Linked DNA regions of Homo sapiens: region 1 is linked to region 2. A link means that fine-mapping ties the variant in region 2 to the expression of a gene that starts in the linked region. Tissue or cell type: unexposed skin. Region 2 holds a variant in brackets; the other region holds the start of a gene. All regions are shown on one strand. Distances are between the middles of the regions.

Evidence for each region. PIP is the estimated chance that this variant, and not a neighbour inherited with it, causes the effect.
Region 1: it holds the start of SLC35E4, and the variant in region 2 is fine-mapped to the expression of SLC35E4 in unexposed skin (GTEx, PIP above 0.99).

What each region holds. Positions count from the first base shown.
Region 1 is chr22:30,632,402-30,640,535 of GRCh38, forward strand. SLC35E4 (solute carrier family 35 member E4) reads left to right here and starts at 3,380. Exons shown (of 2, transcript NM_001001479.4): 1 at 3,380-4,668. The coding sequence starts at 4,050. RefSeq lists an enhancer at 2,102-2,806 and a silencer at 3,138-3,587.
Region 2 is chr22:30,738,789-30,746,788 of GRCh38, forward strand. It overlaps OSBP2 (oxysterol binding protein 2), which reads left to right. Exons shown (of 14, transcript NM_030758.4): 2 at 2,373-2,581. Among named protein-coding and RNA genes, the nearest start is that of MIR3200, 11 kb to the left of the region's middle. RefSeq lists enhancers at 1,560-1,619, 1,910-1,969. The variant G/A (reference allele first, on the strand shown) is at 4,094.

The DNA.
Region 1 (8,134 bases), 110 kb before region 2:
AATCAGGCAGAGAGGTTGCAGTGAGCTGAGATGGCAGCAGTACAGTCCAGCTTCGGCTCGGCATCAGAGGGAGACGGTGGAAAGAGAGGGAGAGGGAGACCGTGGGGAGAGGGAGAGGGAGAGGGCAATAAAATTTATGTATATATAAATTATTATTGTTGCTGAGCAAGGTGGCTCATGCCTGTAATCCCAGCACTTTGGGAGGCCAAGGTGGGTGGATCACCTGAGGTCAGGAGTTCGAGACCAGCCTGGCCAACATGGTGAAACCCCATCTCTAGTAAAAATACAAAAATTAGCCAGGCATGATGGCAGGTACTTGGGAGGCTGAGGCAGGAGAATCACTTGAACCCGGGGTCGGGGGGTGTCAGAGGTTGCAGTGAGCTGAGATTGTGCCACTGCACTCCAGCCTGGGTGACAAGAGCGAAACTCCATCTCAAAAAAAAAATATTACTGTTGTTGGTTTTTTCTCTCTTATTATTTTTTAATTAAATTTAAAAAAGTTTTGGTCGGGTGCGGTGGCTCACCCCTGTAATGCCAGCACTTTGGGAGGCCAAGGCGGGTGGATCACAAGGTCAGGAGATCGAGACCATCCTGGCTGACACGGTGAAACCCTGTCTCTACTAAAAATACAAAAAATTAGCCGGGCGTGGTGGCGTGAACCTGTAGTCCCAGCTACTCAGGAGGCTGAGGCAGGAGGATAGCATGAACCCAGGAGGCGGAGCTTGTAGTGAGCTGAGATCGTGCCACTGCACTCCAGCCTGGGCGACAGAGCGAGACTCTCTCAAAAAAAAAAAAAAATTTTTTTTTGAGGCAGGGTCTTTGTCACCCAGGCTGGAGTGCAGTGGTGCAATCTTAGCTCACTGCAGCCTCCATCTCCTGGGCTCAAGGGATCCTCCCTCCCAATCCCCTGAGTAGCTGGGACTACAGGCAGACACCACCATGCCAAGCTCATGTTTGTTTGTTTGTTTGTTTGTTTTTGAGATGCAGTCTTGCTCTTTCGTCCAGGCTGGAGTGCAGTAGTGCGATTTCTTCCAGGCTGGAGTGCAGTGGTGTGATTTTGGCTCACTGCAAGCTCTGCCTCCCGGGTTCAAGCGATTCCCCTGCCTCAGCCACCTGAGTAGCTGGGACTACAGGCGCCCACCGCCACACCCAGCTAATTTTTGTATTTTTAGTAGAGACGGGGTTTCACCATGTTGGCCAGGCTGTCTCCAACTCCTGACCTTAAGTGATCCGCCAGCCTCGGCCTCCTAAAGTGCTGGGATTACAGGCGTGAACCTCTTCGGCCAGCCTCCCAGCTTATTTTTGTATTTTCTGTAGACACGAGGCTTTGCCCTGTTGCCCAAGCTGGTCTCCAACTCCTGAGCTCAAGTGATCCTCATGCCTCAGCCTCCCAACGTGCTGGGACTACAGGCATGAGCCACTGTACCCAGACTATTGTTTTTTACTAAAGGAGACTTACTAGAAAACTGACAAAATCCAGGCTGGGCGTGGTGGTTTACGCCTGTAATCTCAGCACTTTGGGAGGCCAGGGTGGGTGGATCACCTGAGGTCAAGAGTTTGAGACCAACCTGACCAACATGGTGAAACCCTGTCTCTACTAAAAATACAAAAATTAGCCGGGTTTGGTGGCGCACGCCTGTAATCCCAGCTACTCGGGAGGCTGAGGTAGGAGAACCACCTGAACCTGGGAGGCAGAGGTTGCAGTGAGCTGAGATCGTGCCATTGCACTCCAGCCTGGGCAACAAGAGCGAAACTCGGTCTTGGAAAACAAACAAACAAAAAAACCTGACAAAATATCAAAGATAATTATAACCCTTAGGGGTCCCAGATTTCTCTTCCTCAGGAAATGGCAAGGGGGTGCGGGAGAGGGGCCATCCGCTTTGGCTGGCTTAGTTTCCTTTCCACAACCCTTTCTGGAGAAACACTAAATGCCACCATTTTTTGGTCCTTGGCCTGGAAATTTCCCTATCTGCACCCCCTGCGCTGTAGCTTAGGCTATTCAGCAGAGATCTGCAGGCTCCAGCGGGCGTCGGACTTACAGAGGCAAATGTGACCATGTAAATTCCCAGGCCCACCCGTGACAGAGAGCCTCTGATTCAGCAGGCCTCCTTTGAGGCTGGGGATTTTAAACCCGCGTCCTGTGATTGGGATGGGGATTGAGGGCTATATTCAGCGCCTGGCCACCAGAGGGCGCAGCGGGCTGGGTTCAGCGGTACCCCTTTGAGATCTTGTGTCTCAAGACAGGTTGCTGTCATCAAGGATTTGCTGGTTAGACAACAGGCAAGGGGTGAGCTGGGTCCTCTTGGGCAGGAGCCTAGTAGGAAGACCGACAACAGGAAAGAGGCTCACATCTGATACTGGGCACATGGCTGGGCCTTGGTCCTCGTGCTCCCGGACTTCAGAGCTCAGAGGGGCCAGGGCCTGGCCTAGCCTGGAATCTGGATGGACCTCTTCTGCCCTGGGGCGCGCCGTTTACCCAATCCTGACCTCAGAGAGCGTCTGTCGTTCTGGTGGGAAAACCGAGACCCAGACAGGAACAAGGGCTCAGTGGCAACCGCTCTGCCTCCCAGCCCAGGGCTCTGTCTTGCCGGGGCTGGGGCACAGGGTGGACCCCAGGAAGTTCTGCTATGAGTCAGCTTCGAGTGCTCAGGGGACCGGACAGAGGCTGCTGGCCGGGGAAGGATGCCGGCCGGCGGTACCTACTTCCGCAGCTGTGGGTATCCCTGCCTGGTGATTCAGCTTCCCTCTGAGGGTCCCCAGGGGGCGCCGCCCTGGACTGGGAGGCTGGGGAGGATGCTGGGGCTACGGAGGGGCGATGGAGGTGCCTTAAGGGACCCCGTAATCCAGCTCTGCTGGATGCTGAGGTCCCACGAGATAATTGTGGCCAGAGATCAGGTGGGCGTAAGACTGGTCCTAGGATGGGGGCTGTGGGCCCCTCCTCACTACCCTGCTTCTTGAAGATAGCCTGGGCGGCTGTGCGGGATACCCCAGTGTCTCCAGCAATGCGCGTTCATCTCCATGGAGGGCTCGCCTTGGCGCTGGGTGGGGAGCGACTTGGTCCCCCCTGGCGGCGAAGAGAGGCTGACCACGCCAGCTCGTGGGGGGGTCTACTGGGCAGATGCGCAGGCCCCGGGCGGAGGAGGGCTGATGGGGGAAATGCCAGGCCGATGGGGGAGGGGCTGTGAGCGGGAGGCGTTGGGGCGGGGCAAGACCGCCCTCCCGGTCCGGGGGCGGGGCTTGGCCTGGGGCGGGGCTTGGCTGGGGTGCTCAGCCCAATTTTCCGTGTAGGGAGCGGGCGGCGGCGGGGGAGGCAGAGGCGGAGGCGGAGTCAAGAGCGCACCGCCGCGCCCGCCGTGCCGGGCCTGAGCTGGAGCCGGGCGTGAGTCGCAGCAGGAGCCGCAGCCGGAGTCACAGCCGCAGCCAGAGCCGCAGCCAAAGCCTCAGAGAGCAGGAGTTGGAGCGCAGGCCCTGCTGGATCCGCGCCTAGCTCGCCGCCAGGCACCGGCCGGAGGACGGGCCGTGGTGTCAGCTCACTGCCCGGGCGCTGTGGGAGGCAGCGAGCCCGCGACCCCCCGGGCCGGGCACCGCCAGGCGCGGAGCCCAGATCGCCCCCCTGCCAGGCCTGGTCACGGCCAGAGCACGCAGGAGTTCCCAGGGTCTGGATCTGCGCGCACCCTAATGACCTGGGGACTGAAGAGAAAAAAGGAACGAGGATTTCATCTAAAAGCATAACGTGGGCACTAGGCGAGGAGGAAAGTGGAGACCACCTGGCACGGGGCAGAGGTGCCTGGAGCCCACGCTTGAGCATCGGAGACCCTGGCATCCTAGCAGCCGCGACCTTGGCTCTGCCCTGTCTGAGCTGGAAACACAGCTTAGCTTCTAGACATCGCTGGCACAGGCCTGGCACAAGTAAGCAGTGTCCTCACCTGTCTGAAACGGGACACGGGGTCGGAGGAACCAGGATCTAGCCTGGCCCCAAGCGGAACTCTCTGGTGGCCCAGAGGTCGTCACTGGGGAGCCCGCCTCCTGCCCTAGCCTCACTGGTGCGGATGTGCCGCTGCCCGCCGGAGCACCATGATGGCAGGATGACCTCAGCCGAAGTAGGAGCAGCAGCTGGTGGTGCTCAGGCGGCTGGGCCCCCCGAGTGGCCCCCTGGCAGCCCTCAGGCCCTCCGGCAGCCTGGCCGGGCCCGAGTGGCCATGGCAGCACTGGTGTGGCTGCTGGCGGGAGCCAGCATGTCAAGCCTCAACAAGTGGATCTTCACAGTGCACGGCTTTGGGCGGCCCCTGCTGCTGTCGGCCCTGCACATGCTGGTGGCAGCCCTGGCATGCCACCGGGGGGCACGGCGCCCCATGCCAGGCGGCACTCGCTGCCGAGTCCTACTGCTCAGTCTCACCTTTGGCACGTCCATGGCCTGCGGCAACGTGGGCCTAAGGGCTGTGCCCCTGGACCTGGCACAACTGGTTACTACCACCACACCTCTGTTCACCCTGGCCCTGTCGGCGCTGCTGCTGGGCCGCCGCCACCACCCACTTCAGTTGGCCGCCATGGGTCCGCTCTGCCTGGGGGCCGCCTGCAGCCTGGCTGGAGAGTTCCGGACACCCCCTACCGGCTGTGGCTTCCTGCTCGCAGCCACCTGCCTCCGCGGACTCAAGTCGGTTCAGCAAAGTAAGTGCCTGGGTGGCCAATTGAGAAGGTGGGGGTCCGGGTGGGTGCATGGCCTGGATGGCCCTGTGAGGGGTATGGCTGTTGTCCCATTTTACAAATGAGGAAACTGAGGTTCATGGCTGTGGAGGAAGCAGAACTGAGGCTCAGAGAGGGCCAACAGTTCAGTGAGTTCCAGGCCCCAGACTCAGGCTCTGGAGGCCCAACTCGTGTTTATTTGTTTATTTACTTATTTAGACAGGGTCTGGCTCTGTCACCCAGGCTGCATTGGTGAGATCTCAGCTCAATACAGCCTCCGCATCCTGGGTTCAAGTGATTCTTCTGCCTCAGCCTCCCAAGTAAGTGGGACTACAGGTGCACACCACCACGCTAAGCTAATTTTTGTATTTTTAGTAGAGACAGCATTTTACCATGTTGGCCAGGCTGATCTTGAACTCCTGACCTCCCAAGGTGCTAGGATTTCAAGCGTGAGCCACCCCACCTGGTCAGCTAATTTTTTTTTTTTATAGACACAGAGTCTTGCTATGTTGCCAAGGTAGGTCTTGAACTCCTGTCCTCAGCGATCTTCCCCCCTCAGCTTCCTGAAGTTCTGGAATTACAAACCAGTATTTAGTGATAGCCAGTGATCTGTGTTTGACTAGCCTTTTATCTCACTGTATTGTTCCCATTTGATAGATGAAGAGGCTTGCCCTGGGCCACGTGGCCAGTGAGCAGCAGAGGCAAGATCTAAACCCAGATAGTCAGACTCCATGCTTCCAAGAGATGTGGCCTGAGGCTTTGGACACAAAGGAAAGCCAGAAAGCATGGGCCAGGGAGAGAAAAGGAGGGTCTGGGATGAGCTGGGATTTGGAAGGTCAGGGGTCAGGTCTAAGTCTGGGGAGGGCTGTTGTTTACTGGGAGCTACAGTGTGACAGGCTTGGTGCTGAGTGTTGACCTTGAGTTGTCATGGCAACCACCAACTTTATCCCCATTTTACAGATGATGGGACTAAGACCCAGAGAAGTTCATGATTTGACAGGCTGGGCATGGTATCTCATGCCTGTAATCCCAGCACTTTGGGAGGCTGAGGTGGGAGGACTCTTGAGACCAGGAGTTCGAGACCACCCTGGCCAACATGGTGAAACCCTGTATCTATTAAAAATACAAAAATTGGGGCCGGGCGCGGTGTCTCATGCCTGTAATTCCAGCACTTTGGGAGGCTGAGGCGGGTGGATCATGAGGTCAGAAGTTCAAGAACAGACTAACCAAGGTGGTGAAACCCCATCTCTACTAAAAATACAAAAAAATTAACCGGGCGCCATGGCAGGTGTCTGTAATCCCAGCTACTCGGGAGGCTGAGGCAGGAGAATAGCTTGAACCCGGGTGGCAGAGGTTGCAGTGAGCCAAGATCGCCCCACTGCACTCCAGCCAAGGCGACAGAGTGAGACTCCATCTCAAAAAAAAAAAAAAAAAAAAAAAAATTGGGCCAGGCGCAGTGGCTCACAGCTGTAATCCCAGCACTTTGGGAGGCCGAGGCAAGTGGATCACCTGAGGTCAGGAGTTCGAGACCAGCCTGGCCAACATGGGGAAACCCTGTCTCTACTGAAAATACAAAAATTAGCTGAGCGTGATGGTGGGCGCCTGTAATCCCAGCTACTCAGGAGGCTGAGGTGAGAGAATCGCTTGAACCTGGGAGGCGGAGGTTGCAGTGAGCTGAGATCACGCTATTGCACTCCAGCCTGGGTAACAAGAGTGAAACTCTGTCTCAAAATTAGCCGGGCCAGGTGGCATGCACCTGTAATCCCAGCTACTGGGGAGGCTGAGGCATAAGAATTCCTTGAACCCGGGAGAAGGAGGTTGCAGTGAGCTGAGATTACACCACTGCACTCCAGCCTGGGCGACAGAATGAGACTCTGTCTCAAGAAAAAGAAAGAAGTTCAGCCCAGCGCAGTGGCTCACACCTGTAATCCCAGCACTTTGGGAGGCTGAGGTGTATTGGGGGAAATTCAGCCAGATATCGGGCGAAATTCACCCCTGATATTTCACGTAGGTTCTTTTCTGTATTACCTAAGTGTCAGCTGGTCTGAGAAATAAAGGGACAGAGTACAAAAGGGAGAAATTTTAAAGCTGGGTGTCCGGGGGAGACATCATATGTCGGCAGGTTCCGTGATGCCCCCTGAGCCATAAAACCAGCAAGTTTTGATTAGTGATTTTCAAAAGGGGAGGGAGTGTACCAATAGGATGTGGGTCACAGAGACCACGTGCTTCACAAGGTAATAGAATATCACAAGGCAAATGGAGGCAGGGCCAGATCACAGGACCATAGGACCGGGGTGAAATTAAAATTGCTAATGAAGTTTCGGGCACGCATTGTCATTGATAACATCTTATCAAGAGACAGGGTTTGAGAGCAGACAACCAGTCTGACCAAAATTTATTAGGCGGGAATTTCCTCGTCCTAATAAGCCTGGGAGCGCTATGGGAGACTGGGGCTTATTTCATCCCTACAGCTTCGACCATAAAAGATGGCCGCCCCCCAGAAGCAGCCATTTTAGAGGCCTACCCTCAGGGACGCATTCTCTTTCTCAAGGATGTCCCTTGCTGAGAAAAAGAATTCAGCAACATTTCTCCCATTTGCTTTTGAAAGAAGAGAAATATGGCTCTGTTCCACCCGGCTCACCGGCAGTCAGAGTTTAAGATTATCTCTCTTGTTCCCTGAACATTGCTGTTATCCTGTTCTTTCAAGGTGCCCAGATTTCATATTGTTCAAACACACATGCTCTACAATTTGTGCAGTTAACGCAATCATCACAGGGTCCTGAGGCGACATACAGCCTCCTCAGCTTACGAAGATGATGGGATTAAGAGATTAAAGATAGGCATAGGAAATCACAAGGGTATTGGTTGGAGAAGTGATAAGTGTCCATGAAATCTTCACAATTTATGTTCAGAGATTGCAGTAAAGACAGGCGTAAGAAATTACAAAAGTATTAATTTGGGAAACTAATAAATGTCCATGAAATCTTCACAATCCACGTTCTTCTGCAATGGCTTCAGCTGGTCCCTCCGTTTGGGGTCCCTGACTTCCCGCAACAGAGGTGGGAGGATCACGAGGTCAGGAGATCAAGACCATCCTGGCCAACGTGGTGAAACCCTGTCTACTAAAATTACAAAAATTAGCTGGGCGTGGTGGCGCCTGCCTGTAATCCCCCCTACTCGGGAACCTGAGGCAGGAGAATCACTTGAACCCAGGAGGCAGAGGTTGCAGTGAGCCGAGATCACGCCACTGCACTCCAGCCTAGGGACAGAGCTAGACTCCATCTCAAAAAAAAAAAAAAAAAGAAGAAAGAAAGAAAGAAGTTCATGATTTGCACAGAGGTCACGGGGTCCCTAATGATGTGAAGCATGGTCTATGTGACTCCAGATGCTGGCTCTGATGAAAGAGGGCAGCAGGGCTCTGGGCAGTTTAGGGCCGAGGCTCCAGGCCCAG
Region 2 (8,000 bases):
TCACCTCAAGTGATCCACCTGCCTCCTCCTCCCAAAGTGCTGGGATTACAGGCGTGAGCCACCGTGCCCAGCTGACAAATGTCTGATTGAGTGTCGAGTCATTTGACTTTAGAACTGATAGAAGAATCAAAAAAATGACAGATGATGAACAGCCAGGGAAAATAAATGAGCATTAAAAGGTAGCAGAAAATTACCAAATGAGCTCCTGTCACTGGCAGTATTAAATGCTGGCCAATCACTCTTCCTTTTCTAACACCCTTCATGGGAAAAGATTTATTATGTCGTAGGGGTTCTGAATTTCCTTCAAGTGTCTGAGGAGTGAGTTAGATCCAGTCATGATAGTTGGATCTCCGTTTTCCGACATTGATTGTAATTGGAAATGGCATACACTTTAGTCACCTACCCTCCCCTTATTTTGATACCATTAGCTCCATCATCTTATAAGTCCGTTGTTATGAGATTGCACTATGTTTGCCCAGCCAATGCCTTCAACTAATCCATGTAGAGCCAGAGAATGGGACATCCTTGCTCTGTAGATCTCATGATAGAACAAAAGGGCAGCATCAGGGAGACATTGGCCCCAGGTGCCTCCCAGCAGGAGATGCCTCTACGTCTGCCCCCTCAGGCTCTGGGCCTCCAATTTCAGTTTTAATGGCAGGATCCCAACCTGCTCCAACTCTGTAGTTCTTTTTTTTGTTTGTTTTGAGACAGAGTCTCGCTCTGTCACCCAGGCTGGAGTGTAGTGGCACCATTTTGGCTCACTGCAACCTCCGCCTCCCGGGTTCAAGTGATTCTCCTGCCCCAGCCTCCCAAGTAGCTGGGACTACAGGTGCACGCTACCATGCCCGGCTAATTTTTGTATTTTTGTAAACGCCCAAGGGGTTCACCTTGCCTGCTGCCTAGACGGAGGCGATTCATGAAAACAGGGGAATTGCAATAGAGAAAGAGTAATTCACACAGAGTCTGCTGTGCGGGAGATGGGAGTTTTATTATTATTCAAATCAGTCTCCCTGAGCATTCAGGGAGCAGAGTTTTTGTTTTGTTTTGTTTTGTTTGTTTGTTTGTGTTTGAGACAGAGTCTCGCTCTGTAGCCCAGGCTGGAGTGCAGTGGCGCGATCTTGGCTCACGGCAACCTCTGCCTCCCCGGTCCTGGTTTAAGCAATTCTCCTGCCTCAGCCTCCCGAGTAGCTGGGATTACAGGCAAGAGCCACCACGCCCAGCTAATTTTTGTATTTTTAGTAGAGACGGGATTTCACCATGTTGGCCAGCTGGTCTTGAACTCCTGACCTCGGGTGATCTGCCCATCTCGGCCTCCCAAAGTGCTGGGATTAAAGGTGTGAGCCACCGCGCCTGGCCAAGGGGAGCAGAGTTTTTAAGGATAACTTGGAGGGTGGTGGGGGAACCAGTAAGCCAGGAGTGCTGATTGGTCAGGGATGAGATCACAGGATGTTGAAGCTGTCTTCTTGTGCTGAGTCAGTTCCTAGGTGGGGGCCACAAGATCAGACGAGCCAGTTTATCGATGTGGGTGGTGCCAGCTGATCCATCAAGTGCAGGGTTTGCAAAATATCTCAAGCACTGCTCTTAGGAGCAGTTTAGGGAGGGTCAGAATCTTATAGCCTCCAAATGCATGACTCCTAAACCATAATTTCTAATCCTGTGGCTAATGTTACTCTAGTCCCTAGGCAAGAAGGAGGTCTGCTTCGGGAAAGGGCTGTTCCCATCTTTGTTTAAACTATAAACTACAAATTAAGTTTCTTTCAAAGTTAATTCAGCCTATGCCCAGGAATGAACAAAGACAGCTTGGAGGTTAGAAGCAAGATGGAGTCAGTTAAGTTAGATCTCTTTCACTCTCAGTCATAATTTTGCAAAGGCAGTTTCATTTTTAGTAGAGACAGGGTTTCACCGTGTTGGCTCATGACCTCAAGTGATCTGCCCTCCTCGGTCTCCCAAAGTGCTGAGATTACAGGTGTGAGCCACCGCGCCTGGCCCCAACTCCATGGTTCTAAGACTTAAAGGAAAGAGTTTAGCATAGAGTCCGAAGGCTGATCTGTCTTGAGAGACCTGGGCAGTCATTCTGCCATTTCCTGGTGTCTGCAAAGCTTTAGACCACACCAGACACTCCCTGCACACGTGGCACCAATGCAGGCTCCCGTCCCTCTGCCATTCCCCACAGAGAGCAGTCGTGGCCTTAGAGTCCCCCTCAACCAAGCCACGACCAGGCAGTTCCAATAGGCATCATCTCCCAACTTTGACTCCAGGGCCTCTCCCAGCTCTGAGGGTCTGAGATTCTGAGGATTTGCCTGGAGGGTTTCTTTAGTCTGGAGCCATTGAGATTAGGAGCCTCACCCCATTCCTTCTCTTACATCCTACAGAAATCAGGGTGAAATGGCCCACACGTGCCGTGGAACCATCAACCTGTCCACCGCGCACATTGACACGGAGGACTCTTGTGGTATCTTGCTGACCAGTGGGGCCAGGAGCTACCACCTCAAGGCCAGCTCAGAGGTGGACCGGCAGCAGTGGATCACCGCCCTGGAGCTGGCCAAGGCCAAGGCTGTCCGCGTGATGAACACTCATTCAGGTAGTGAGCACTTGGGACAGCGGGTGTGTATATGGTGGTGTCATGAGTCTGGAGGAAGTGGGAATTGCAAGCCACTGGTGGGCAGTGGTGGCCAGGAGACCCAGGCCAGCGTGGATCAATCTGGAAGGTCAAGGTGCGTGCATGTTCTGTGCATCGTCAGCAGTGAGAGACTCAGCCATTCTGTCTGGCGAGCAGTTCTTGGCATGGAAATGTTTTTGGTGGGCAGGAGCTGTGTGTGCCTTTCTTTGGGCTAGTCAGGACTTCAGCAGACCCTTCAGATGCTGCAGTGGGTTAGGTCCAGAAGCAGCAGTCAGTCTGTGCCTCAAGCCAGCCGTTTCCCCAGGTTCCCCCATCGTGGAGAGTGAAACCATTTAGCCAGAGCTGCTGTCTTTGCCTATTAGGGAAGCCCGCTCAGATGTCCTGAGCAAGACATTTTGTTTCTTACTTTATAAATTTATTTTATTTTTTGAGATAGAGTCTCACTCTGTCGCCCAGGCTGGAGTACAGTGGCATGATCTCGGCTCACTGCAACCTCTGCCTTCCGTGTTCAAGCAATTATCCTGCCTTAGCCTCCCAAGTAGCTGGGATTATAGGCGCACACCACCATGCCCAGCTAATTTTTGTATTTTTAATACAGACAGGGTTTCATCACGTTGGCCAGGCTGGTCTCAAACTCCTGACCTCACGTGATCCGCCCACTTCAGCCTCCCAAAGTACTGGGATTACAGGCATGAGCCACCGCGCCCGGCCAATAAATTTATTTTTTAAATATGTAATGTTCGGCTGGGTGTGGTGGCACATGCCTGTAATCCCAGCACTTTGGGAGGCTGCGGCAGGTGGATCACGAGGTCAGGAGTTTGAGACCAGCCTAGCCAACATGGTGAAAACCTGTCTGTACTAAAGATACAAAAAATTAGCTGGGCGTGGTGGTGCGTGCCTGTAATCCCAGCTACTCAGGAGGCTGAGGCAGGAGAATCACTTGAACCCAGGAGGCGGAGGTTGCAGTGAGCCAAGATTGCACCAGGGTGAGACTCTGTCTCAAAAAAAAAAAAAAGTAATATTTTAACATGACTCATAAACCAACAGCTTCTAAATCCTACACAGTGAGGTCTTGTCTTTGACTCCTGGTTCCCAGTCACTCACCCCATTCTCCTACCAAGAGGCAGCCAGAGATACTTGTATCTTCACATGTATATTCAAATAGGTACTTATTTCAAAATAACTGCATTCACTGCCTTCTTTATTTTCCATTTAGCAATATGTCTTGGAAATTTTCCCTGTCAATATGTAAAAAGCCTCCTCCTTGTTCTTACAACAGTGTAGTATTTCATTGTATGGGTGGACCATAGTTTATGTAACCTATAGCTTGTTGGTGAGCATTTGGGTTGTTTTCCTTATTTTGTTGTGACATACTGTGCTGCCATGAGTAACCTTGCAAGTACTTCATTTCATGCACATGTGAGTATAAATGAAACTTATGTTCCAGGAAGCCGGCTTGCTGGGTCAGTGGGC[G/A]CGTACATTTGTAATTCTTCAAGGTATTGTCAAACTGCCTTCCACAGGGGTTGTGCCATGGAATGTTAACAGGAGTGTGTGAGGACACACACCTCCCACAGCCTTGCCTGCCCAGAGCTACAGTAAATGTTTCTGATGGTTGAAAAATGTGTCTACACATGCAACAGTGATCCTTCTGAAGTCATTAGTGGAATGGTGTATTCCACAGACCTATGTGTTTGTCTGGGGAGGCAGGGCTCCAGGTGAGAAGGGGGCACAGCCCCTGCTCTCCCAGACTATCTTGGAGACTGGGTGGGGAGATGGTGAGTCCTGTGGAAGGAGCTCCAGCATTTGGCAGGATGAGAGCTAGTGATGTTGGTCCTTATGCCCCATCCCTGTCTCCCATGTTGGGGTCTGTCTCCCAGCTCTAGGGTCTCAGTGAGTATTAAAGGGCACTGAAAACCAGTCTGGCTTTCTCTTTTGTCTCACTCATTTGGAGCATGGGTCACCTGCTTGGTGACTGTTCTCCCTGAGGTGTCAGCACTCATGTAGCTCTCGTATGTCAGCAATGATGCTGAGCTTGACGGCGGTCCCCCGGGTACCACTCCATCACCCAGTGAAGGAGGCAGGTGGGACCATCTCAGACATGGGCTGTGTTGGGACCCCCAGAAGGACCTGTGGTCTCAGTTTGTATGCCTGTGGGAAGCCACTGTGGCAAAATCTGTGGCTGCTGGCACAGCTGGGCTCAGGGCACTCACACTGGCCAAGTAAGGATGCTAACTAGAGATCTAGCTTCCTCTCCCTGGTTTCGCTTTTCTAAGTATAAATAAATAAATAAATGATAAATTGCCTTATTTTTTAGGAACTTCTTGAAAATAATGCAGCAGGTGGCAGTCATGGGATTAGTCATCCGGCAACAGTTTTCCTACGACAGCCAGTGCGAGGGGTTTCTTTTGCAGTTGGCAGGGTGCGGAGGTGAGGGCGGGGAGGAAGGAAGTGCTTGTTAACTCAGCTGGGCAGTGCTGGAGACTGCTGCCCAGACTTCATCTAGGGGAGAAGGGGACCCCTGAGGGAGTAACCTTAGGCTCAGCTTCCTTCATTGTATGAGATGCAGCACAAGTGCCAAGAGGGCAGCCTTCTGGGCAAGGGCACAGGACAGAGACAAATGTCCAGGTAACCCTCAAGGTAGGATTCCTCTCCTGTTGGCTTTTTGAAGCATGAATGAACCATGTATGTGAAGGAAAAGCCTTCAGACGGCTACTCTGTGTTTATGGAAAGATTGGGACCACCTGATTATGTCTTGGAAAATAGCCCTTTTGATGGCCTTCTGTTAAAGGCAAGGTCCTCCTCTCTAAGCTCTCAGGCTGATGTGAGAGAGTTGTGGTTTGTAACTTTTTGCCTGTCTTGGAGTCAGCTTGGGGCAGCCTTGAATGAGAGAAGATGGCCTAATGTCGCTCTCCTTGGGCCTGGCTGATGGTGGCCAGCTGGGTCAAGGACATAGATAGCACTTTAGGCAGGCCACTGTGGGTTATCCCGGGGCCTGTTTTCTTCTCCTGAACTGAGAACCCTGTCTCATCCTGCTGGAAGCCTACTTCCTACTTCTGCTTATCTCTTGAAATCACCTGCTACTCCCCAGCTCTTTTGCCATGCCCTAATCCAAGTACAATCCCCTCCTATCTGGATGTCTATCAGGAGTTCGAGACCACCCTGACCAACATGGTGAAACCCCATCTCTGCTAAAAATACAAAAATTAGCTGAGTGTGGTGGCGCGTGCCTGTAGTCCCAGCTACTTGGGAGGCTGAGGCAGGAGAATCGCTTGAACCCTGGAGGCAGAGGTTGCTGTGAGCCGAGATCACGCCACTACACTTCAGCCTGGGCAACAGAGTGAGACTCTGTCTCAAAACAAACAAACAAACAAACAAACAAATAAATCAACTCTTAGGTGCTATAAACCAACTAGACTTAGCAGACATATACAAAACACTCCACTCAACAACAGCAGATTATAATTTCTTTTCAAGTACACATGGAACATTTTTCAGGATAGACCATATGTTAGGCCACAAAACAAGTCTCAATAAATTTAAAAAAGATTGAGACTATATGAAGTATCTTTTCTGACCGCAGTGGAATGAAGGTAGGAATCAATAACAGAGGTAACACTAGAAAATGCATGGAAGTTAAACAACATACTCTTAAACAATGAGTGGATCAAAGATGAAATCACAAGGGAAATTCGAAAATACATTGAGATAAATGAAAACAAGAACACAGTTTACCAAAATTTTGGAATACGCAAAAGCAGTGCCCAGAGAGAAATGTATAGTTCTATCTAATCCTCATTTGTGTGCCAGAAAAAAATACAAAAAAAAAATTATAGCGCTAAAAGTGTATGTTAAAAAAGAAGGAAAATGAATCTGAAATGAAAAACCAAACTTTATACCCGAAGGAAGTAGGTAAAGAACAAACTAAACTCAAAGCTAGCAGAGGGAAGGAAACAATAAAGATTAAAGTTGGGCTGGGCGTGGTGGCTCACGCCTGTAATCCCAGCACTTTGGGAGGCCAAGGTGGGCAGATCACCTGAGGTCAGGAGTTTGAGACCAGCCTGGCCAACATGCTTAAGCCCCATTTCTACTAAAAAAATTTAAAAATTAAATTAGCCAGATGTGGTAGCAGACGCCTGTAATCCCAGCTACTCAAGAGGCTGAGGCAGGAGAATCACTTGAACCGGGGAGGCAGAGGTTGCAGCAAGCTGAGATCATGCCACTGCGCTCCAGCCTGGGCAACAGAGTGAGACTCTGTCTCAAAAAAAAAAAAAAAAAAAAAAAATTAGAGTTAGAGTAAATGAAATAGAGAATAGAAAAACCAATAGAGAGAATGAATGAAAGCAAAAGTTGGTTCTTTGAAAAGACTGACGTAGTTGGTAAACCTTTAGCTAGACTAAGAAAAAAAGAGAAGACTCGAATTACTGAAATCAGAAATGAAAGTGGGAACATTACTAATGACCTTACAGAAATGAAAAGGGTTATAAGAACAGGATGAAAAGGATTATAATGAACAGTTTATGCCAACAAATTAGATAACCTGGATGCAAATGGACAAACTCTTAGAAACACTCAAATTACAAAAACTGAGTAAAGAAGAAATAAAATATCTTAGCAGACCTACAATGAAGAGGTCATTGAATCTGTAATCAAAGATCTTGAAACTAAGGAAAGTCCAAGACCAGATGGCTTAATTGGGTGAATTCTACCAAACATTTAAAGAACTTGCAAGGCTGGGCCTGGTGGGTCACGTCTGTAATTCCAGCACTTTGGGAGGCCTAGGAGGGAGGATCAACTGAGCCCAGGAGTTTAACACTAACCTGGGCAACATAGTGAGACCCTTTCTTTACAAAAATTTGAAAAATGAAACTAGCCAGGCATGATAGCACATGCCTGTAGTCCCAGCTACTTCAGAGCCTGAGGTGGGAGGATTGCTTGACCCCCAGAGGTTGAGGCTTCAGTGAGCCATGATTTCACCACTGCACTTCAGCCTGAGCAGTGGAGTGAGACCCTGTCTCAAAAAAAAAATTATACCAATTCTTCTTAAATTTTTTCCAAAAAATTGAAGAGGATGAAACACTTTTTTTTTTTTTTTTTTTTTGAGATGGAGTTTCGCTCTTGTTGCCTAAACTGGAGTGCAGTGGTGCAATCTCGGCTCATTGCAAGCTTCACCTCCCAGGTTCAAGCGATTCTCCTGCCTCAGCCTCCCGAGTAGCTGGGATTACAGGCACCTACCACCACACCCGGCTAATTTTTTTGTATTTTTAGTAGAAACGGAGTTTCACCATGTTAGCCAGGCTGGTCTTGAACTCCTGACCTCAGATGATCCGCCTGCCTTGGCCTCCCAAAGTGCTGGGATTACAGGCACGAGCCACTGTGCCCA